Regions from separate parts of the Homo sapiens genome. Here regions 1, 2 and 3 are each linked to region 4. Evidence: fine-mapped expression QTL. A gene starts in region 4. Each other region holds a variant in brackets. All regions are shown on one strand. Distances are between the middles of the regions.

Region 1 (5,888 bases), 210 kb after region 4:
AATTAGAGTGAGTCCCCATGATCCAATGGGGTACAGATGGTTCTATACCCTTCTTCTTAGGGGAAAGGAAGATGGGGAAGTGTGGATGATTTTAGGGGAGTTGTAAATGATTTTTAGGGGAATTCAGTGGGTTTAAAGAACATATAATGGCCTGGGACAAAGTTGGTTGGGTCTGCTTAGCAGACAATGGTTTGGGACAGAAGTCTGTCCAGGTGTGTTGACAGACTTCAGTCTTTCTTCCTGTCATATGAGTTCAGTTCATGAAAACTCAGGGAAGGTACCAGAGGTAACTGATTTTTTTCTTTGGTGGTTTGGACTTCAGGCAGATAATGGAACTTCAGAGAACAGCTGCATCCTGTACTTTGGGAGAGACAGGATTGGGGTAGAGAAGGTCAGACAGACCTTGAGACTTCTTCAGTTCAGCATGTCAATGTGCCATATTCTGGGGTTTCAGTTTCAGAGCCCAAACACTGACCTAACTCAATTTATAGTTTGATACTTTTGCAGAGCCTACTAAAACCTTGACTTTTACATTGCCACCAAGACAAAAGACTACATTCCCGGCTTCCCTTGAATCTCAGTGTAACCCTGAGGCTAAATCCTATGAAGTGAAATACAAGCAAAGGTGTTATGTGAACCTTCTGGGAACTGTCCTTGGAGAGTGGATATAATGATGTGCTGGAGCTCTGACTGCCATCTTGGATGTGAGCACAAGGGCCACACCCTTGAAATAGCATAGTATGAGCTGGAAGGAGCCTGGATCACTGATGACCATTGGAGACCTCACAACAGCCCTAAACTGCCTGTATCTAGGCTTCTTTTATGTGAGTGAAATACATGACCACCTTGTTTAAGCAAATATTTAGGGGGTTTCTGTTACCTGCAATGGGGCCTAAACCTGACAGTTTCCTCTGCTCCAATAAGCTGTAACCAGAGAGGTAGGGCCTGAGGGATACTGCCCACACAGTGAATCTTCCAGGTCTGAGCAGATTTCCCAGGAAAGGAGTCCTGGGCAGAGCAAAAAGACCATGTGGAGTTTCAACCACACTGGTTGAGTTCCATTGACAGACGACTTGGATCTGCAAGGAAGAGAAATACCGGGATACATGAAAAATTGGGTCCTGGGCTCATACCATAGAATGTGCACCAGTATAAAAAAAATTATAATTCAAGGGGAACAGGCTCTGGGAGGTGGAATTGTGGGAATCATGGCTGCAGGCCAGGTTGACAGGTGCCTTGAGTAGATGGAAGTCAATTGTTCTGCTAATAATTGAAGAAGCATTGGTTATATTTATAAGAGATCTGGCTAATGCATTCCCTTTGGCTACTTAGGGCTGTGATTTATTGGCAGCAAAGTTACTTAGAATAATAAAACCCCCAGGCCTTGTGGCAAACTGCTGAGATTTTTCAAGAAGAAAGGGACCACTTAAAGATCTCAATTGGCTTTTCTTGAGTGAATGATATCCTGAGGAAGCAGGTTTCAAATGTGTCTCCATCATTCACACCCTTAAGAAGAAAAACGAGAGAAATAAAAAAAATGCTACATTTATTTCAAATATTTGACAAGTTACGAAAGTCCTGAAACAGGTTTCTAAGAACTACAACTCCCAGTGGACACATGTTCCACCATCCTTTTCTTCCTTTTTTCTAAAAGCTTTTAATTGATTGAGAAAAACCGGTTCAAATATCAGTTGATTTGAATGCATTATTCAATAAAAGGAAGAATATATGTCATTTTTAAAAATAGCCTTTCTTCTATACAACTGTGTCCACCTGGGCTATGGCCTTTCTGTTAAACTTTTTTTTTTCTTCCTAAGCAAATAAAATCCCAAAAGTTAAAAAAAAAATCCTAAAACTTTGTGCATAACCTTTGCCTGCTGAAGAAGCACACGCTGGCAATGACAGGGCTCAAAGCAGCCTCGTTCCTCTGGGTCACAGACACAGCAGGCAGACACTCAGCCACAAAGGCCAGACACTTGAAAGCAGAGATTTAAGAAGGAAATCAGTTGTTCTTCATGTTCAGAAAAAAATAAAAGATGTTCTGAAATAGAAAACAAGAAAGAAAAAATAAAGCAGTCTATTCTCAGGCAGTAGCACCGATTACCCAGGAAGACCTCAACTTATATAAACATTGAAATCTTTGAAGTAAATGAAGATAAGCTGTGATGGTTAATTTTATGTGTCAAATGGACTGAGCTAAGGGTGCCTAGCTAGCTGGCAACACATTATTTCTGGGTGTATATATGAGGATATCTTTGGGAGAGATAAGCATTTGAATCAGTAAGCTAAGTAAAGAAGATTATCTTCACCAATGTGAGTGGACATCATCCAATCTGTTGAAGGCCTGAATAGAAGAAAAAGGTGAGGAAGGACAAATTTGCTCTCTGCTTGAGCTAGGACATCTGTCTTCTCCTGTCCCTGGATTTCAGCACTGTGGCCTTCAGACTTACTCCACTGGCTCCTCTGGGTTTCGGGCATTCAGGCTTGGACTAGAACTGCATCAGCTCTCCTGGGCCTCCAGCTTACAGACAGCAGATCATGGGATTTCTCAGCCTCCATAATTGTGTGAGCCAACACTCATAAGAAATTTCTTTCTATATGTCTACATATGTCCCACTGGTTCTGTTTATCTGGAGAACCCTGACTAATATACCAGTCAAATGAGAAATGCAAAGGCTATTTCTTTAGATTTTACTATAGCAAGGGAGTCAGCCCATCACACTTACATTTGGCAGAGATTCAAAGGTAGGCAGAGGGGTGAGAAAGCTTCACAACAGAAAAAAGAGAAGACTTCACATATGTCCTGATAGGCATGGGGACACTGTAGGCAAGTTAACTAGAAGCAAAGCATCCTATATGGTTGGTCCTAAGTTAGAAGTGGGGGCAAGCATATTTTTTTTCTCTGATTTGTTCTAAGTTAGAGGTGGGGGCAAAAATTAGGGATGCTGTCAATTATTAATCAAGTCCTGGCCATTTTGTGTGAATTGTTACAGAAGTTATTGTTTATCTTTCTGGATTATTTCTAGAGAT[G/A]GCAATATGGCTTCCTGCAAGTCTGATATACTTGTGTAGCAGGCTGGCTTCCTGTGTTGTTTATTGTAGATAAGGGAATTGGTTTCCTGGGCAGGTTGCTGCAGCTTGTGGGCCAGAGTTCTATTTTTATATGTGGTCTAGCCATTGTCCATTTGTACATTCAGTCTGTTGTCTTTCAGATAAAGACAGATAGCTGTCTTGGAGCAGCTGACTGATAGCCAGCAAGGTGATTCCAGTATTTCTAGAGAGCTATTTTGGGACAGCTAATTCCTCTAGGCCACCTTGCCCAGAAGTGCCTAAGGACACACTTGCCTAAGTGAGCACATCCCTCTGAGCTCGATGCCCCAAGATGGCGAGGAAGGAAGGGAAGGATAATGGTGACGCTAGCAGTGGGGGCCTAGAAGGAGGGGAGGGAAGTAGTGCTCAGTGGTTCTCAGCCCTGGCTCTCAGAACTTTGTGGACAGCTTTAAGTAAACACTGATGCAGCAGCTCCGCCCCACCCACCAAAGATTCTAATTTCATAAAGCAGGCCTGGGCATCAACATTGTTTAAAAACTTCCCAGGTGATTCTAAGTTGCAGCCCAGGTTGGCAGCTACTGACCAAAATGAATAATGTTTCAGAGACACTGGGAACAATATTTAGCAATTAGTGAAAATGAAATCAGGGCATGCAGCCACAACCACTTTCTCAAGAAGCCTCCAGTCTTGCACTCTTGTAGCATTGCACTTTAGAAATATAAAACGCAGAGTGAAGCTGAACTAGAGTAACAAATAGGCAAAGGTCATAGAAGGTGAGCCCACAACACACAATAAAAATGCCACAGGATCTGAACCACAGGCATAGTGAACAAAGGAGTACACTTAAAGCTGCTTCGAAATGACTGAAATTCTACCTATTCTGAACAGTGGCCTTCATTTTTATTTTTAACTATTAAAAAATTATTTCCTCCTTTAAAAAATGCTGTTTTATCATAACCTTTTATTTCTCACAGATTATGTATGATGCATATGTGTTTCCAGTCTGTCTAAACTTATACATTTCTCAAATACTTAAAACAGAATTCAGAAGAGTTGCACTTGGAGTATATAAACTCCAAAACCTCAAAAGAAGCACGCACACTCTATATACCTGGTATCCATCTTTCATTTCTAGTCATTTCTAAATTTTTGAATGTACCAATGTATCTGAATCTGATACAACACCACCCCCTGGTGGAAATCTATAGAAAAGAGCCCACACTTGATTTTACTTGAGAATGTTAATACTGCAAGGAATGATTATGACTGCATAAAACACTGGTGGGCTTCTCTCACTGTCTACCAGCAGAATGTTCTCTGCAAACAAAATCATATGCAAGTTCTGAATGAACGCAACAGTAAAGCTGTAGCTGTGCTAAGAGCTTTCTCTTTCCCACACTTTCATTGGCAACCCTGTATCTCACTCAGGATGTCCAAAATATAACTTACTGTATCATTTAACAGAAGTCGTCTTCCCCAAATATTAAAATTAAATCCATTTCTCCTCAAGCCTTTTTTTTTTTTTTTTGAGACGGAGTCTTGCTCTGTCACCCAGGCTGGAGTGTAATGGTGCGATCTCAGCTCACTGCAACCTCCGTCTCCCGGGTTCAAGTAGCTTCCCGAGTAGCTGAGATTACAGGCACCCACCATCATGCCCAGCTAATTTTTGTATTTTTATAGAGACGAGCTTTCACCATGTTGGCCAGGCTTGTCTTGAACTCCTGAACTCAAGTGATCCACCTACCTCAGCCTCCCAAAGTGCTGGGATTGCACCAAAGTACTGGGATTGCAGGCGTGAGCCACCGTGCCCAGCCTCCTCAAGCCTCTTTACTTCAATACCAGCACTTCATTTTCCGTCCACCCAAGCTCTCTAGAGGATTCACAATACACGTGCACACATTAGAGGCTCTGAGTAGGCCTGAGTCAAAAAACAGGTTAAATTCATTTAACTCAACAATTCCAACTCATTTTATTGTGAGACACATTCCCCTCCTCCCCAATACTTCTTAACAAACTGCGGAGTACTCTGATTATATTTCATTCAGAATGATTGTTCCACCTTAATTAGCAAATTAGTTCTTTGGCTGCACATGCTGTTCATCTTCAAAAATGCTTAGGCAAAGCCAACCATACCACAAACCAGCTCTCAATCATTTACAGTAATGGAATGTACAACCCCTAGGTGTTTGACCCCAGGCAGCTATTGAATTGATATGACATACATAGGCAACTTCATCTCTGTCTCCTACCATCATTACCAGCTGAGGGGAGGAAAAGCTTGCTGCTAGTACTAGGAGCAAGCATGCTTTGTCTTCAATTAAATGTAATAATCCAGCACTGTGTGAGCACAATGTAATTTTATTTAGAGGAATTATGTTGCTGACTTGGCTATAACCTAAGAAGATCACAGGCAGCTCTGCAATTGACAGTGATTTAAATGTTTTCCATACATTATCTCCTCCTGTGGATTTATAAGCCAAATGATATCAAAATCTCTATAGCTTCCAACATTCATATAAATCTGCATAGGTCCTTGGACATCAGTTCTAAATAAATTTTACTCTATAAGAAGTATTTTTAACAAAAAATAGAGCTTTATGCCCTATGCCATTAATGCTGGACTTCCTAAGTAAGCCTACATGTTGCATCATTTCTTTTGTTGTTGGTGTTTTTTTTAGAGGTGGGAACTGGCACCTCTAAAAAATGTTACCCAGATTGCACTCAAACTCCTGGGCTCAACAATCCTCCTGCCTCAGCCTCTCAAGTAGCTGGGACTATAGGCATGCCACCGTGCTCAGCTTACATGTTACACCACTTCTAATGTTGAAAACAAAGAAATG
Region 2 (5,888 bases), 150 kb after region 4:
GTAACGCCCTCAGTGTGTGCCCAGCGCTTCTGAAGGCTGCGAGGGGAGTGCCGGGTGCAGTTTCACGTGCCTTCCCCTCAGCCTTCTCCTGTAATTGGCCTGTTTCTCAGACCCGGCCCTGCTTCAGAAAGAGCAAGAATCAGTTATACATTGTGCAGTGATGTTTAAAATTCAGGTAACCCATGCAAAAATTTCATTTAAAAACAAAGGATCTCAGTTTCCGTTCTGGGTAAGCACACTCCCACCCCGCGCCTCCCACGGAATGCAGCAGTAAAACCTGGACAGAATGCACAGAGCGGTTATTTGAGGAATCTGAAAAGTAAACAGTAGCAGGCAGATTGGAGAAGAAGACCAGAATTCAAAGTACCTCGAAACTAGAAGCCAGGTCACCATTGCTTTTCCTTCTGGTGTCCTGCCCGCCCTACTCTAGGCTGCCTGGCACCGGTGGTGGGCACTGGCGCAGCCAGGAAGCACCAGGAGCAGCCCCGCAGTTCAGGCTCCAGGAGGCGGGGCGTCTCCCGATGCTCAGGGATAGTAGAGGAAATCCTCACTTTTCCTCCTTTTTTTTCCTTTCTCCGTTCTTGCAAGTAATCCCACTAAGATGGTAGAAGCCACAGTGGGGGCCTGAAGGCACCTAGAACTCTGCGAAAACGGAAGTTTCCTCTCCTCTCTGAGGCAGTGGACCCCAGAGAGTGGGGTGAATCCTCATTGACTATGTCTGTCTCTCTCTTCCCGCAGCTTGGCCTTGGACTCAGGCACAGTCACAGGAAGTGTGAAGCAGAGCGTAGGCAAAGCAGGGGTAAAAGCCCAAACTTTCTGGTCATAGATTCAAAAACCGTAGGGAACTGGATAATACTGGGGAAACTGGGGAGAAGGAGTAGCTTGGGAAGGCAGCCCCATTAACGGATTTGTAAAGCACCTGGGCTCACTCTAGAACTGTGCATGTGTGGATCTGATCCTGCCTGGCACAGCAAAGACTGAGAACTGAGCTAATAGATGGACCTCTGGAGCTAACAGACAGACAGACCTCTGCCCAAGCCCCAGACTGGCCTGGGCATACATGGGATACACATGGGACAGAGGTGAAACCCCTACCAAGCCTTTGAAAACAGAGCTGACATGGAAATTACAACCCACAGGAGGCTGGTGGGAACTTGAGGCCTGGACCCAACCAGGATAACTGCCTGTTAAAACAAATATATCGACATTATCCACAGTATTTAAACAAAACTCGGCCTTATAATATTCAAATTTTCAGGATACAGTCCCAAACTACTAAGCATATGAAGAATCAGGAAAATCCCAACTTATGTGGGAAAAAGACAATCAGCAGATGCCAATGTAGGCCTGATACAGATGTTGAAATTTTTGGCAAAGACTTAAGAGCAACATTTACAAAATAATCCATGAAGTAAAGGTGGACATGCTTGAAACCAAGGGCAAGATAGAAAGTCTCAGCAAAGAAATAGGAAGCATAGGGAGCCAAATGGAAATTCCAGAACAGAAAATACAATAACTGAAATAAAATCTCAGGGGATGAATTCAATAGCAGAAAGAATTTGACACAAGAAAGAGCCAGTGAACTTGAAGACAGATCAATAGAAAGTATCCAATGTGAAAAACAGAGAGAAAAATTATTGTGGGCAGGGGGGAAAGAGCCTTGGGGACCTGTGCAGCAATACCAAGTGGTCTAGCATTCATGTCACTGATATTCCAGAGGAGGGGAAGAAAGAATGCAGTGCAGGAAAAAAAAAAATTAAAGAAATAATGAGGCCAGGCACGATGGCACACACCTGCAGTCCCAGCCCTTTGGGAGGCTGAGGCGGGCAGATCACTTCAGCTCAGGAGTTCAAGGCCAGCCTGGGCAACATGGCGAGACCCTGTCTCTACAAAAATATAAAAATTAGCTAGGCATGGTAGTAAATCCCAGCTGTAATCCCAGCTACTCTGGTGGCTGAGGTGAGAGGATTGCTTGAGACTGGGAGGTCAAGGCTGCAGTGAGTCATGCTGTGCCACTGCACTCCAGCCTGTCTGACAAAGTGAGACCCTGCCTCAAAAAAAAAAAAAAAAAAAAAGGAAGAAAGAATGACTGAAAGACCCCCCAAATATGATGGAAAATATAGCCTAAAGATTCAAGAAGCTTTGCAAACCCCTCAGAGGAAAACTCGAAGAATTCCACACCTTTATGTGTCATAAGCAAAGTGCTGGATATTAAAGACAACAACAATAAAAAACTGAGCCTCTGCTAATCTTGTGACAGACCCAGTAGTGGGCCAGGGTCAAAACAACAAGGTGAGAACGGGCAGAGCCAGCCCGTCCCATAGGAGCCTCTTCCCCTCAGGCCCCCTCCCTGTCAAGACCCAGCTCTCTCTCTCTGCAAGCCCATCTGCTAAATGTCTCTGGCAGCAGACAGCAGGCATGCTGAAATTCAAATCCAGAGCGCCAATCTGCCGCCTCTGCAGCATGACACAGAGGGTAGGCTGGGAGGCAGGGGAGCCAGAAATCAAATCAGCTCTGACAAGAAAAAATGCATTATAATTCAAGCAGGTCCTGATAACTTTTAGGAAGGAATAAAAAATATAAGACAAGAAGGAATAAACACTCAACTCTGGATTTATCCTCTAAGTTATTTTGATAAGTTGGAAAGAGTGGCTAAACAAATTTGAGTTGGAGTTTGTTCTTAAATTGACATCTTTAAATTCACCACATTTTCTGTGTAGGTCAAAATGGTTCAAATGTGAGCAAGACTGAAACACACCAGGGGATGGCTAAGAGAATAAAACGTAATATATTTTAGATTTTTATCATGGGCAGTAAAAACAGAAGCCATATACCTAGAGTGGATCCAGTGAAAGCCGAGATTTTCACTTGTTTTCATGAGGTGGAAACTA[C/T]ACAGTGTCTGCATACGTAGTAAAGTTTCAGATGTCAAATTATGGGTTTCATTGAGGTAGCACATCAACCTGGAAAGGAGGGACGAGTTTCAGTTTTCTTATGAAAGTAAGTTTATATAAGAATGTTTCGGCCAGGCACGGTGGTTCAGGCCTGTAATCCTAGAGTTTTGGGAGGCTGAGGTGGGAGGATCACCTAAGGCTAGGAGTTCAAGACCAGCCTGGGCAACAAAGCAAGACCCTCATCTCTATGAAAAGTTACAAAATTAGCCAAGTGTGGTGGTACACTCCTGTAGTCCCAGCTGCTTGGGAGGCTGAGGTAGGAGGATCGCTTGAGCCCAGGAATTCAAGGTTACAGTGAGCTATGGTTGCAACACTGCACTCTAGCCTGGGCAACAGAAGGACAACATTTATCGAAAAAAAAAAAAAAGCAAGTGTGCCTAAGAAAGCAAAGGGAATTTAGAAAAACACTAACCATATTTGTAAGGATTATCTCTCTCTCTCTGCCTCTTCTTGTCTCTGTCTGTCTCTCTCACACACCCTGCCTCCACATGTATACACACCCTATTCAAAATACGTAAGGTTACCTGGACTTTCTGAAACTCAGAATCCTAAAAGTTTAACATCATCTGAATCAACACCAATCTGCTATGTTCATCGACTTACTTCAGTCAGTTACCCTTCCCCCAAACATTTACCAGCCCTGAGACGTCAGTGTATTCAGGAGGAAGGTCTGCTGCACCCCTATAAACCCATTTCAAAGATGCTTGGGATCCTGAGTTGCTATTAAAACCAAAGGGAAATGGGGGTTGGCAGAGGGTGGGGAGGACATAAAAGCCACCAGTTTGCTCCAGTTAATGCTTCCTGCCTTGAAATTTTGTCTGTCGATATTTGTAAACCGTGTTTTTATTTGAGATTTGTATTTTATTGGCATATTTTTCACTTGATTTTTATTTTATTATATTATTATTTATTTATGTATTTTTTGAGGGGAGTCTTGCTCAGGCTAGAGTGCAGTGACATGATCTCGGCTCACTACAACCTCTGCCTCCCAGATTCAAGTGATTTCTCCTGCCTCAGCTTCCCGAGTAGCTGGGATTACAGGTGGGTGCTAATTTCTGTATTTTTAGTAGAGATGGAGTTTCACCATGTTGGCCAGGCTGGTCTCAAGCTCGTGACCTCAAATGACCTGCCCACCTCGGCCTCCCAAAGTTCTGGGATTACAGGCGTAAGCCACCACGCCCAGCCTTGATTTTTAACCTATGTTACTTTGAATACTTCTTTTGTATACAGCACTGAGTTGATTTAATTTTATAAACTTTTCCCTTCAATAGTTATATTTCTTGATAACTGACACACTTAAGTGCATTTACATTACTTTATTTATACTTTTATTTTGAGGCTTTTCTTTTTATTTTTCCCATCCACTCTCTACATGTTGTCATTCTCAGATTTTCTGTATTTCATCATTTTTAATAAGAGTAACTTAGAAGTTATATATTCTATTTTCATTTTAGAGTAGTGTTCTCTATAAGTAAATAAGCCAGACAGAAAAAAAGTGGGGGGAGGAATGGAGACGAGAACAGGAAAAGGGGGGCCTGAGAGAAAACAGAGGAAAGGGGGGTCTTCCCGCAACACCTGCACAGCAATCTCCATCTTCCCCACGAGAGAACCTGCAACCCGGGGGCCCACAGGGCTCCCCGAGGTCTCTTTGGTGGCTCTCAGCCCACATCAGTCTCAACTTCACTCAAACCAGGGAAAGTGTTTCCTTTCCAGGCTTTAAACCAGAAGTCATTTTTATCACGGAAAAGAATTAAAATGCCTCACCTAGTCAGCAAGCGCAGGAGAACATGGACCGTGGCAGAAATAATGCATCCCAGAGGCCACAGAGAGCACCCAAAACACAGAGCAGCAGCATCCCACAGCCACCCCAAAGGCTGACAAGGGGACAGAGGCCACACGTGGCACAGGACATTGACGGGAAGCAAAGCCTTTCTTGGAAACCAGTTGTAGACACTGGATGGTGCTTGAATCCTCTCCTCTGAGACAGGACAAAAGCAAGCAGGACATAAAGTGCTCTGCCACGAGTAGACAGGCCCAGGGGTTGGGGGATGGGGGAGAGCAAAGCCACACACCATTTATCACATGGTTAAAGAGTAGCAGCGGTTTCCTCATGAGGCTATCACATCCCACTGAATATGTCATTGGTTGCACGTAACCGTGCAGGTATACATATATGTATTTCTCAGTTCTCAGCATTCATTCATCCATTAACTCTTTTGTCATTTTCATATTGTTCATGTTTCATACTGACCTATCCTACTCTCTTGCCATTTGACAATGATACAGTATTTGGTAGTCTCAGTAAATCCTACCTGACAATTACAGATAACGCTCTGGTTCCAGGACATTCCTTGCATGATTCTATATTTATAGAACATTTTTCTGTCTGAATGCACTATAAGTTATAGTGGCTGACAAGTTAGGAGAAGCCACATAAAAGCTTCTTTTGAATCTCTGGGAAGCTGCCACCAGGGCAGAACAAGGCAGGCAGAGTCGACTGGACTCCTCTGGAACCAAAAGTATTTCAACCTCAACCCTAAATGGAAGGAAAAATCCACAGTCTTTATTACGAAGTGGCCTTTTTCAGGGACATGAAGAATTGCTGAAGGAAGCAGACCTTTTTGGAAGTCAATCCATTCTGATTGGGTTTGCTGCTGTGGAACTCTCTGGACTCAGGATTCTTTGGTGAATGGGAGCAAGAATCTCCAAAGTTAGAAGCGAAGCTGCCAAAGTGGCAACTGACCTCAGCCCAGGACCCTCTCCCCATTTCAGATTGGAAATAACGAGAGTACAGGTGACAAACTGTATAACATAGCAGATCTAAGCTGATGAAATCTCGAATATATTTCTTAATTGTATGAGAAATGACTAATATTCCTTTCATTAAAGAAAAACAACCTTCCATCCATAAGTAAAAACTTACAATGAAAAAAGCAG
Region 3 (5,888 bases), 68 kb before region 4:
CCTGACCTCATGATCTGCCCGCCTCAGCCTCCCAAAGTGATGGGATTACAGGTGTGAGCCACCACATCCAGCCAACAATTCTTAAGTTATCCTTCTCCTTAAAATAATATTCCTGTCATCCCCTCAAGTAAATTCACTCAACATGAACATGGGACCAATGGCACAGAAGGTACAATAGGCTGGCTCTGCAATGGTGGCACCATAATTCCATTTCTAGCAATTCCACTGCTGCATGACCTGTAACACACTTATAAATACTAAAATAAAATTCAGAGAAGCAAAAAGTTTTTCCCCACTATCACTAAAAAGTGGCACTGGAGATACAGTATTTAATGAGTACATACTATATGTGCTAGATGGTTTCACTAAATTTCATTTCATTTAATCTTTACAATTCAGTAAGACAGGAATTATTACTCCATTGTGAAATATAAGAAAGCTAAGGCTAGGAAATAGTATATAACTGACCTGAGGTTAAACAGTTAATAAACAGCAGAGCCAGAACAGAAAAGTCAGATCTGTCTACCTTTGAGGCTAATCTTTTTGCCACAATACCACACGCTGTTCTCAGGCTCCTGCCAGAAGTGGGTTGTGTTTTCTGCAGTCAAAGTGGATCAATTCTTGCCACTCTCCTGCCCCACTTATTAATCAATAAGTATGTAATTAAGATGAAACCTAGTGTTTAATCTCGCCAAACTTCCTTGGTAAAGGATGTAAGAAACATGTAAACTAATAAGCATGATGTACTTTTCTATCTTCAACTCCTCTCATTTATCGTTTGTCTTATTATTAACAGACTATTGTGGTGAAGCTCCTTCCACTTGCCAACAATAACATCTGATATTAATAAAATAGAATTATAAAGCAATAAATTAGCATAATGCTTATAAACATAATTGACTTAAATATAATTGTACAAGTCTTTGTTTAAAATTCATTTAAAAAATATTTTCAAAATTGATAGTTTTTAGTTACTACAAAACGGTTAAAAAAACTGATACCACACTGTGCTATTTAGTACTGTACACATGATGTTTTTTTTTTAATTCCCACTGAATTAAAAAACCTAGGTTAAATAACTGAAAACTCCTTCAATACAACCTCTCCAAAACAATTTCAAATTAAGTAGTTCAGCTTTTAGATTCTGAATTCTTCCCCCACTGCTCCACAAAATTTTAAAGGAAACTAGGTATAATTCTGACAGTATAGCTGTTGACATATTAAAATTTGTTTTTTAACACAAACATCTTAATTTATTTACTGTTATCTGTATTTTCACTTTCAAGTTTAATGGTGGCTCTAAGACATTTGTTAAAATGTAACAATATTTTGAAACTAAATGTTGATTTTTATTTCTGTTACATATGAGAACTGCCTGTGTATTTCTCTATTATTTGATGGCATAAATTTATATTTAAGTGATAAGCAGTTGAGTTATCTGAAAAACAAATTTTGGCTATAAATTATGTATTTGAAAGCATGACCATAAAATATTTTTCACCACTAACAATGATTTTATTTCAAGAATTCCATGAGGTGTAATTAATGTATTGATACATGCACATGTTTCAAAGGATACCACCAAGAAAGACAACCTAAAGAAGGGGAGAAAATATTTGCAAATCATATATTTGATAAAGGATTTAGATCCAGAATATACACAGAATTCCAACAAGTCAAAAATAAAAACACGAATAATACAAATTATAAATGGGCTAAGGAATTAAATAGACATTTCTCCAAAGGAGATATTCAAATGGCCTGTAAGCACATGAAAACATACTCAACATCATTAGCCATCAGGGAGATATAAATACATGCTATATGAATGAACCTTGAAAACATTATGCTAAAAGAAGCCAGTCACAAAAGACCACATACTGTACTATTCATTCATATGAAATATCCATACAGACAGATCCATACAGACAAATCCATAGAGGCAAATCCATACAGACAGAAAGATCAGTGATTGCTAGGGGTTGAGCTGAAGGGGAAACAGAGTGACTGCTAATGAGTACAGGGCTTCTTTCTGGAGTGATACAAATACTCTAAAATTGATTGTGGTGACGGTTGCATAACTTGAATATACTAAAAAACACTGAATTGTACACTTCAACTTTAAATGGGTGAACTGCAAGGTATACGTAGGTTGTGAAATATATCTTAATAAAGCTATTTTTTAAGTATTATTTCCTTTTCTTCTTGTATCCAGAGCTCTGAGTTTACATTTTACAAGTGGTACAAATCTAGTATGCCAAGTATTTGCCTCTCCTTATTTACACATTGGATTATTTCAAAAGTAGCTGGTTCCATCACTAAGACATCTATCATTACATTATATTTTTGTTCTTTCCACTGACATCCTTTAGTATTTTTATTGTTAAAGTTTAGATCTATTATATAATTTGCATTTATACTAAAAATTAGATCTATCATATAATTTGTGTTTATACTATTTAATGCAACAAAAATATTTTGAAGAGAGTGTAAGAAATTCCATTAAACAATTCTCTGTGGTAGGTAAGTGCAAATTATGTTCTTAGTATTGCATTTCTTTTTGTGAAACAAACAAAAAGATGCATTTGGGAAACGTCGGCATTCAATGTATTCTATCAAGGCATAAAACATGATTTTACCACCGAAGTTTCTACAATTATTTTAGCCTATCTGATTATTCCTGATTTAATATCTTGGTATAGAATGTTTACACCCTACATACTGGCAATTTGTTTTTGAAATGTTCATTTAAAGTAGGAAGTTGCATTCAGTTAAATAACTAATAAGACTTTAGCAATATGCACATACAAAAGCATATTAAAAGCAGTTACATAGCCAGGTGTAGTGGCTCATGCCTATAATCCCAACACTTTGGGAGGCCGAGGTGGGCAGATCACAAGGTCAGGAGTTCGAGACCAGCCGGACCAACATGGTGAAACCCCATCTCTACTAAAAATAAAAAAATTAGCCAGGCGTGGTGGCAGACACCTGTAATCCCAGCTACTCAGGAGGCTGAGGCAGGAGAATTGCTTGAACCTGGGAGGTGGAGGTTGCAGTGAGCCGAGATTGCGCCACTGCACTCCAGCCTAGTGACAGAGTGTCTGTCT[C/CAA]AAAAAAAAAAAAAAACAAAAAAAAAACCAGTTACATTCTTGTAGAATCAAACCTAAAGATTTCAGGTAATTTTCTAATAATTTTTATTTCTAAGACAAAAGTATACAAATAAATTATAAGGGAGAAATGAAAAGAGAAAGATAATGAAGAGAATGGAGGAAAATGTCTGGTTAAAATGACTTCTTTATGCAAAAAAATTAGGAGCTGTTTAGTGTACAAAAAGAAGAGATTTAAAACAGAGTAGAAAAGAAAAGCCCGGAGAATCATACTGATGGCATTTTTAGATAATTCACTGATTTATTACAATATGTACACCAAAGGACATGGGTATGATCTGTAATAAATTCATGATTAATACTGTTAAGTATATCATTCATCTCATCTAACTTAAAATATATACGTAGAAGAAAATACAATATTAATAAGCTTACATTCTTCTTCCTTTGGATCAAGCTGTGTAACACTAACAGATAAACGGTCCACACGTTCTTGCAATGAGTTGACTCTGAAGGAAAAACTATGTGCTTCATTGAATAATTCTCCAAATATATCTTCAGCATATTTACCTAAGCAAAAATGACACATATATCATAAAATTTAACATCCAGAGCACTGAGTTTTTATCTTTGCAAGCAGTAGAAATCTAGCATGATATTTGCCCTCAGATACTTTGTGATCAGAGATAAATAATGAACAATGTAATATTACAACTGGTGACCTGTTGAATTTGGAATTTATTTGGAATTACAGTTGACCCTTGAACAAAATCGTTTAACTGTAATAGTCCACTTACATGTGGATTTTTTTCAATAAATACATTGAAAATTTTGGAGATTTGAGACAATTTGAAAAAACTTGCAGATGAACCACATAGCCTAAAAATACTAAAAATTTTAAAGTATATTTTAAAGATATGAATGCATAAAATCTATGTAAATACTAGACTATTTTATCATTTACTACCACAAAATATACAGAAATTATAAAAAGTTAAAATTTATCAAAATTTACACACAAAACAAAAACATACATAGTGCCATTCACAGTCAAGAGAAATATAAAGAAATGGAAAGATATATTAGGTTGGTGCAAATGTAATTGCAGTTTTTGCCAACCTAATAGTACTAAATCATAACAATAAATTTAAGTGTAATACTGTATTACTGTAACAATTTTATAGCCACCCTCTGTTGATACTGCAGTTAGCTCTAGTGTTGTTACTATCCACTTAAAATGCTGTTTGAGCAGTTCTCTCTCCACTAAATTGCATATAAGAGTAGGAAGTAATCTCTCATGGTTCTTGTGTATTTTCCATCATGTTTTATGCAATACTGTAAACCTTGAATACATTGTGAGACTCATTCAAAGTGCCACCAGTGATGCTGGAAGTACTCTCAAGTACAAGAAAGTCATAACACTACAAGATAAAGTTGAATTGCTTGATATGAACCCCAGATTGAGGTCTACAGCTGTGGTTGCTTAGCATTTCAAGATAAATGAATCAAACTTAAGGGCAATTATAAAAAAAGAAAAGGAAAATCATGAAGCCATTGCTGCAGATACACCAGCAGACACAAAAACCTTGTACTTTTTGCGAATACCTTTTAATCTTGTATCAAAATGCAATTTTTGTGGGTGCATGGCTGTTACAAGAAAGCATACATACAGACTCTAACATGATTTGAGAAAAAGTGAAGTCCATATATGACAACTTAAAGCAAAAGGAAGGCAAAGGATCTAAACCTGGAAAATTTAATGGCAGTAAAGGATGCTTTGATACTTTCAGGAAGAGGTTTGGCCTCAAAAATGTCACAAGAGAAGCTGCAGCTTTTGTCAGCCAAGAGGCAGCAGATGAGTTCCCAGATGCCATTAAGAAAATAATTAGTTTCCATGTATGCTGCTTGAAAAAAAAAAAAAAATTGGCCAGGCATGACAGTCTGTAATCCTAGCACTTTGAAAGGCTGAGGTGGGCAGACTGCTTGAGCTCAGGAGTTTGAGACCAGCCTGAACAACATGGTGAAACCCCGTCTCAACCAAAAATACAGAAATTAGCTGGGCACGATGGTATGTGCCTGTAGTCCCAGCTACTTGGGGAGGTGAGGCAGGAGGATCACTTGAGCCTAGGAGGTCGAGGCTATTGTGAGTCGTGATCATGCCACTGTACTCCAGCCCAGCCTGGGTGACAAAGTGAGACCTTCTCTCTCTCTCTCAAAGAAAAAAAAAAAAACAAAACAGAAAAGAAAAAGAAAAAAATTGAGTAGAAACAATATCTGCCTGAACAGAGTTTTAATGCAGATGAGAGTGTCCTATTCCAGAAAAAAAAAAAACTGCTACAGAGGACATTTATTAGTAAGAAAAAGTGAACACCAGGATTTAAGGCAGGAAGGGACACACTAACTCTATTGTTTTGTGCAAATGCAGTCGGGTTTATCATCAGAACTGCCCTTATCTATAAAGCTGCTAACCTCAAACCTTGAAGGAAAAAGAAGGCCAAAAGAAGAAGGCAAGACAACAAGAAGGCATGGACAATGAGAATCCTTTTTCTGGATTGGTCCCATTGACGCTTTGTCCCTGAAGTCAGGAAGTACCTTGCCAGTAAGGGAATGTCTTTTAAAATTCTTGTGATAACTGTACAACATCTCTGGCCACTCAGAACCCCATTAGTTTCACACTGAAGGTGTCAAAGTGGTCCACTTGCCCGCAAACATGACAGCTCTAATTCAGGCTCTAGATCATAAGGACATTTAAGACTCATTACACATGGTATTCTGTGGAAGACT
Region 4 (5,888 bases):
AGGAAAATTATAAAAATACAACACTTACTTTTTATAGTGAATCATTTATTTTTAAATAATGAGATGTAAACAGTTTTTAACATAAAAATCAAGTAACCAACAGTGGTTTCTTATATTTGCAAAAAAAAAAAAATTTCATCCTTCAGGTAGATCACGCAAAACTGAAGCCTACTCATACTTGTAGATTCAAGTTAGAAAAAAAAAAACTGGATTCTAAAACAAGTAATTAAATACATGATATTGCAAAGAAAAAAGTGAATAAAAAATAAAATCAGATAAATTAGGGAATGACTGATATGATGGTTAAAATCCTCATCTTAAATATTAAATCCTTCCATTCAATGGAAGGCAACGATTAGTAATGACATATTCTGCTACCGAAAAACAAATACAAAACTTTTCTTATTCAAAACTTCCGAAATTTTATATCAAATACTTCATTCAAATATTCAATATAAACAAAAATGTTTCCTAACAGAAACTTAGAGCATAAAGGATAAACTGTTCCTGAGAGTTCAAATTGAGACTGCATTTCTAATTATGATATAATGCTATGAACAATCAGAAAAATGAATGTTACCTACCATGCAAATTTAAATTTAAGAACATTAGACGGATTGAATAACCAATAAGTCAATTACATCAATTAGTGAACAGAAAAAAGACCTTAGCTAATCGTGAATCTAACACCAAAGAAAAAATTTAAGTCGAATCCACCGCACATCTTATTACATAGAAAAGGAAATGATTAGAGTAAGTCGTATTTAAGTACCTAGTCTAGCTGGGGATCAATTAATTAATCGGTTATAGGGCAGGACGTGAATGTTGAGATCGGATGTGCTTTCTTTCATCGTTATTCCAGTTCATCATCCGCAAGTGCAAGAGAAGGTGTCAGAGTACCGAAGCTAGGGGGCATGCTGTAGCAAGGGGAAAAGAAAAATGGGAAAGGTGCAATGGATGCTGCATAGTTGAATAATTATCTGGGTGGCACAATGGGCGAGTCCTGCCGACATGAGCGCTGAGTGAGCGGCTCCGTAACTCTGCCCAAGGCAGCCCCCATGAACAGGCACCAGAAGCGACAGCACCGCTTCGCCTCCCCTTCCAACGAAGAAAAGGATGCCCGCACTCGCTTTACCGTTATGTTTTCAGACACCGACTCGCGGAGCAAACACGCAAACGCACGAGCTCGCTTTACCGAGCCTCGCGCACGTAGGGCGAGCAGGGGATTCTCTGTCGCCCGGGGCTACCGCCTCCCCCGGAAAGAGGCACGGGGCGGACCGCGGGCGCGGGTGGGCAGGGAAGCCCGGGCGGTGGCACCTCAGGTGACACCCACAGTCTCTCCAGCGAGAGCAGCCCCGGGGCGGTCCCTGCAGCCAAGCCCCAGGCGCGCCCGCCGCCGTCTCCCTCGGCACCCAGCCCCGCTGGCGGGTGGGCGGTGGGCGCTCGGAAAACCCGCGGATGGGGGTGGGGGCCGGGGCGGGGAAGGCGCGCCCATCCATCCCCGTCACCTTTGCGGGCCACACACCACTCGGTCTGCTCCGGCCAGTAAGGAAGAGTTCCTCTCCCAACACCCCCTCCCCGAAAAAAGCAATTCCTCAGGGACTCGCGCTCACCGTGAAATCTTGGGGGCTCACGCCTTACCCCTTCTTCATGCTTCGGCAGCGGTCGCCGGTCCCCCTCGGCTCGCGGGACTCCGCCTAGAGCCCCCAGGAGGGTCGGGCTCTGGGGCGGAACCCGCTCAGGGCAGCGGCCCAGGCGCCAGGCCACAGGGAACGCCGCCTGGGGCGCCAACCCGCCGCCGGACCCACCGTGTGCTCGACGCGCGAGTGAACAACACCGCGAGCTGCCGTTCCCCCCGCCCCCTCCCCGCGCGAGACGCTCCACAACCGGGCGCAGGGACCCGCGCCAGAAGCAGGGGGGACCGCGAGACTCTTTCCGCCTATGGTCCCATCCTTGCCCCCCGCCCCAGGAGCTATTCCTGGCCAGTCAGAGGTCTCAAAACTTCAGATTCTCACTTTCCTCTTCAGCCTCCAGTGCCCAGGTGCAGCCGAGGTGGGAAATCCAGCCTCCGCCCACTCCCCCATTAGTGGGGCCGAAGCTCGCTCTTCCCCCCTTTCCTGAGGTTCTGTGGTATTGCCCAATCCTCAGTTTGGGGGAGGGGGACGAAGAGAACACTGCTTGGCTAGGGAATGAGGGAAGATGATAGCCAATTGAATGGAACATCCATTCGGGGGCGGGGTCAAAGGGGGACACGCCCCCGTTCCGCCCCCTCGTTGCAAACTACACTTCCCATTGTGCCCTCTCGCGCTTCCTGCCGCGCTGCACGCTGGGAGTGCAGGACCGCGAGGCCTCAAGGTATTTTGGAACTCATATTCTTTAGTCAACTAGGTCCTAAATGTTATAAACTATTATAATTCTCCCTTTTTCCCTAGATAAACTTTTTTAAGCTCTCAGCTCGACAGTAGTTATTCTAATAATAATTAGCTTATTGTTTCAAAATGTAAGACATTATTTCTTAGCAAAGAAAGTTAATGATGTGTTCCATTGCAATCTGTCAGGACCTGGGAGCCTCTTCTTCTTCCGCCCTGGCAGGGTCTCCGCAGAAGATTTGTTGCCGTCATGTCGGCTGCGATTGCAGCTCTGGCCGCTTCCTATGGTTCGGGTTCAGGGTCCGAATCGGACTCGGACAGTGAGAGCAGTCGGTGTCCGCTGCCAGCCGCCGACTCCCTCATGCACTTGACTAAATCGCCTTCATCAAAGCCGTCTCTAGCAGTGGCAGTGGACTCGGCTCCGGAGGTGGCAGTTAAGGTAAGCACTTTTGCTACTAATGCAGTGTGGGAATTGTTGGCTTCAGCTCCAGAACTGCCAGCCGCTTGTTAGGTACCGGGTTACCTCTTTCTCAGTGCTCAGAGATAAGTTGCTAACGTTTGAATTTCTTCTCCTTCCCACATGCATCCTCGGGAGAGGCAGAATTGGAAGTTCGGAATAGCCCTCCGATGCTCTCTGCCCTTGCCTCCCGCCATCAGAAAGCAAGTGGAAGGAGGGGATGAAATTTGAATTTGTGGATTAGGGACATAGCCTGGAAAGTGCAGGTGTAATCTCGGAACATAAGTGAAATTAGATCAGGACTTCCCAAACTAGAGTATTGTGTGAGCAGTGGCCTCGATTTGTCTTATTTTTGAAGAACTAGGTTCTAATCCTGGCACCACCACTTGTGTGAACTTGGACAAGTTATGCAGCCTCCTTTCTTTCCTCACCTGTACAGTGGAGATCATTTTCAAAACATCTGTCTACATGAAAAGATGAGTGTGAAAATTGAGTGAAATTACACAAATAAAGCATATAGCACAGAGCCAACTAGTGAGAGTGCAGTAAATGTTTTATGATTGTGTGTGTTAATACAGTGAGAAAAAGGCCTTGGATTTGAGAAACAGCTGCATGATCTCAATGGAGGAAGCTGATTAATAAGGCAAGAGTTTCCAGGCAGAGGTGACAGGCAAGCCTGAGAACGCAAAGAGCCTAGTGGGTTTGAAGAACTGAGGAAAAGCTGATGTGTCTGGAGCCTGATGAGAGCATCTACCAATTGGTAGTGTAGGCCCAGTAGAGCCCGAGGTAGGTGATCAGCTCAAGATGTGAAGAGGGGAGGCGGTGTCCAAAAATTCCTTTGTATCATGTCCCCAAGTCTAGTTTAATGACTTAAGAAGTGTTTTACAGGTTTTTAACAAGCTGTATGTGAATTTTACTTTTTAAAAATGGACATCTGTCATGAAAGAATGCTTAGAATCCTCCTAACTTCCTATCAAAACAAAACTTTCCAAACTTAAGCCCCTCCAGTAACCTCCTGAGTCTTCTCCTTTCACAGCTCAGCTTTTTGGAGCTCTCTTTTTGTCTTCGTCTCATTTTCTCCTCAACCCAATGCAGTCTGGCCCTATCCTCTTGGGAAACTACTGTCTGTGAGTGATGTCCCAGGCCTTCCAGTTGTCAAGTTCAGCCATCTGACTTAAATGTCTGCATCAAATGACACTGTTCATTAGTTCCTCTTTCTTGAAACTTTCTCTCCGTTTCGCTTCCATGGGGCTCTACTCAGCATTCTGTTCCAATTATTTTACTCTCCCTTTTCAATACTGGTGTTTCCCAGGACTCTGCTCTTAGTCCTCTTTGCATTCCACATATTCTCCCATACCTTCAACCTCAGGCTGTGCTGCTTCTAGCTCAAGGTGAACACCGTGAAATGGTTAGCACAGGCTCTGGAATTAAGACTGTAATTCAAATCCTGCCTCCAGCACTTACCCACCTGGGGACCTTGGATAAGTTACTTAAATGCTCTGTACCTAATTTTTGCTGATCTGTAAAGTAGGAATAACAGTAGTACCTATCTAACAGAATTATAATAATTGTCATAAAAGATGTAAAGCCCTTTTAACAGTGCCACACACAATGAACACTAATTAAATGCTTGCTATCCTTTTATTTCCAGTTCTATCCTCCTTGCTAGCTTACGATCTTGAGAGGTATATAAAAATCTCCCACAGTAATTGTACATTTGTCTTTTGCAGGTTGGCGCTCAGCCACCTCCAATTCAGTGTGTCGAAAAATTATTTTCTTTCCCTCAAAATCCACTTCTGTTTTTCCTATTTTGATCTGTCATCCCACAATCCACCCACTAGTTGAAGCCGAGAACAAAGAAGGTATCCTTTTCTCTTCCTTCTTCCTCAGCCCCTGAAGCTAGTCATTCAATTGATTCTAACATTGCTGTTTCATTAATTTCTCTCACATCAACTCCTTCCTTGCTATTTTCACTGGTGCAGGCTTCATATCTTCCTTATTTCTCCCAGGAGTTATTCTTTTCTTTCTCTTTCAGCCTTTTTGGGTAGTGGGTTCTGTCCACTTTAACTCAATGATATTCATCAAATCTCTCTCTTCTGCTGCCACTGTTTAGTTCAGATTCTCATCATTTCTCTTCAGACAGTTGTAGCCTTCTAACTGATCTTTCTACTTCTTCCTTTCTTGTCTCCCAGTTTTATACCCCATTCTTTTCTCCACAGTGCACTTAGAATGATCTTTGTAAATTCCACTTACATCGTATCACTTCCCTGCCCAAAGACACCATGTTGTCCAATGGGTGATTTCTAAGTTTTTTTGGTAGCATGTGAGTCCTGCTATTCTCCCATGCTGAACTCTTTACAAAGCCCTGAAAGCCGAATTTTCTTTCTTCCTCTGAAGATTTTGCCCACGCTAGTCTTTCTGCCTGGAAATCCCTTGCCTAGTGCCTCCTTCCCCCACTCCAAACACTGTGGTCCTTCAGTCTCAGTGTATATGTTTCCTCCTATTTTACCTTAGCCCCTTTATCATATCTTAACTATAGCACTTAGCACATTGCTGTAACTTGTTCATCTTTTTCTTTCCTCTGGACTGTGAGACCCTGGGGTCCAGAGACTGTTGTATCCATTCGTTTGTGTCTCCAGTGCCTAGTACACAAGATTAGGGAAGTATATTTGGTAAGAGAATGGAATGAAAAAGAAAGTCTTGTAAAAGTATGCACATTAAGAATCAGAATTTTAGAGCTGGACATGCAGTGGCAGGGATGGGGGTGTTTGTCTAGAGCTCACTTAGTGCAATCACGAATAAATAAGGGAACCCAGGAGGAAAGGCTGCGTAAGGTACCAGAAGTCCATTAGAGGTAGAGCTGGGGCTAGTCCACCCAGTGGTCTGGGTTCTATGAGAGCGTAGAGGGCATTGCTCATTGTTGGTTTATGAACCAACACTTGTTTATATGAAGGGAAAACAAACTTACACATAGTAAATATAATGATTGCAAATGATTGGAAAATTGGAAAATGACCAAGGGAGATGTGAAGCATGCAAATATATTCATCTGTAGTTGACTA

Which allele goes with the higher level. Positions count from the first base shown, and alleles are read on the strand shown. Sizes are in standard deviations (SD) of each study's normalised expression. Not every link is listed here.
For the expression in neutrophils of the gene that starts at base 2,602 in region 4, T is the high allele of the variant in region 2 and C is the other (moderate effect, 0.45 SD a copy in BLUEPRINT).

The links. PIP is the estimated chance that this variant, and not a neighbour inherited with it, causes the effect.
Region 1: its variant is fine-mapped to the expression of CDC40 in pancreas (GTEx, PIP 0.93).
Region 2: its variant is fine-mapped to the expression of CDC40 in neutrophils (BLUEPRINT, PIP 0.95).
Region 3: its variant is fine-mapped to the expression of CDC40 in whole blood (INTERVAL, PIP above 0.99).

Annotation. Positions count from the first base shown.
Region 1 is chr6:110,386,792-110,392,679 of GRCh38, forward strand. DDO (D-aspartate oxidase) reads right to left here. Exons shown (of 5, transcript NM_001372108.2): 5 at 4,993-5,888. Among named protein-coding and RNA genes, the nearest start is that of DDO, 26 kb to the right of the region's middle. The variant G/A (reference allele first, on the strand shown) is at 3,031.
Region 2 is chr6:110,329,606-110,335,493 of GRCh38, forward strand. The region is part of intron 1 of METTL24 (methyltransferase like 24); the gene reads right to left. LOC102724586 (a long non-coding RNA gene) reads left to right here and starts at 5,649. Exons shown (of 5, transcript XR_428004.3): 1 at 5,649-5,745. RefSeq lists an enhancer at 495-995. The variant C/T (reference allele first, on the strand shown) is at 2,892.
Region 3 is chr6:110,109,787-110,115,674 of GRCh38, forward strand. It overlaps WASF1 (WASP family member 1), which reads right to left. Exons shown (of 11, transcript NM_003931.3): 5 at 3,540-3,674. Among named protein-coding and RNA genes, the nearest start is that of WASF1, 67 kb to the right of the region's middle. The variant C/CAA (reference allele first, on the strand shown) is at 3,108.
Region 4 is chr6:110,177,826-110,183,713 of GRCh38, forward strand. CDC40 (cell division cycle 40) reads left to right here and starts at 2,602. Exons shown (of 15, transcript NM_015891.3): 1 at 2,602-2,808. The coding sequence starts at 2,620. WASF1 (WASP family member 1) reads right to left here and starts at 1,845. Exons shown (of 11, transcript NM_003931.3): 1 at 1,614-1,845; 2 at 773-917. RefSeq lists silencers at 1,205-1,524, 1,765-1,874.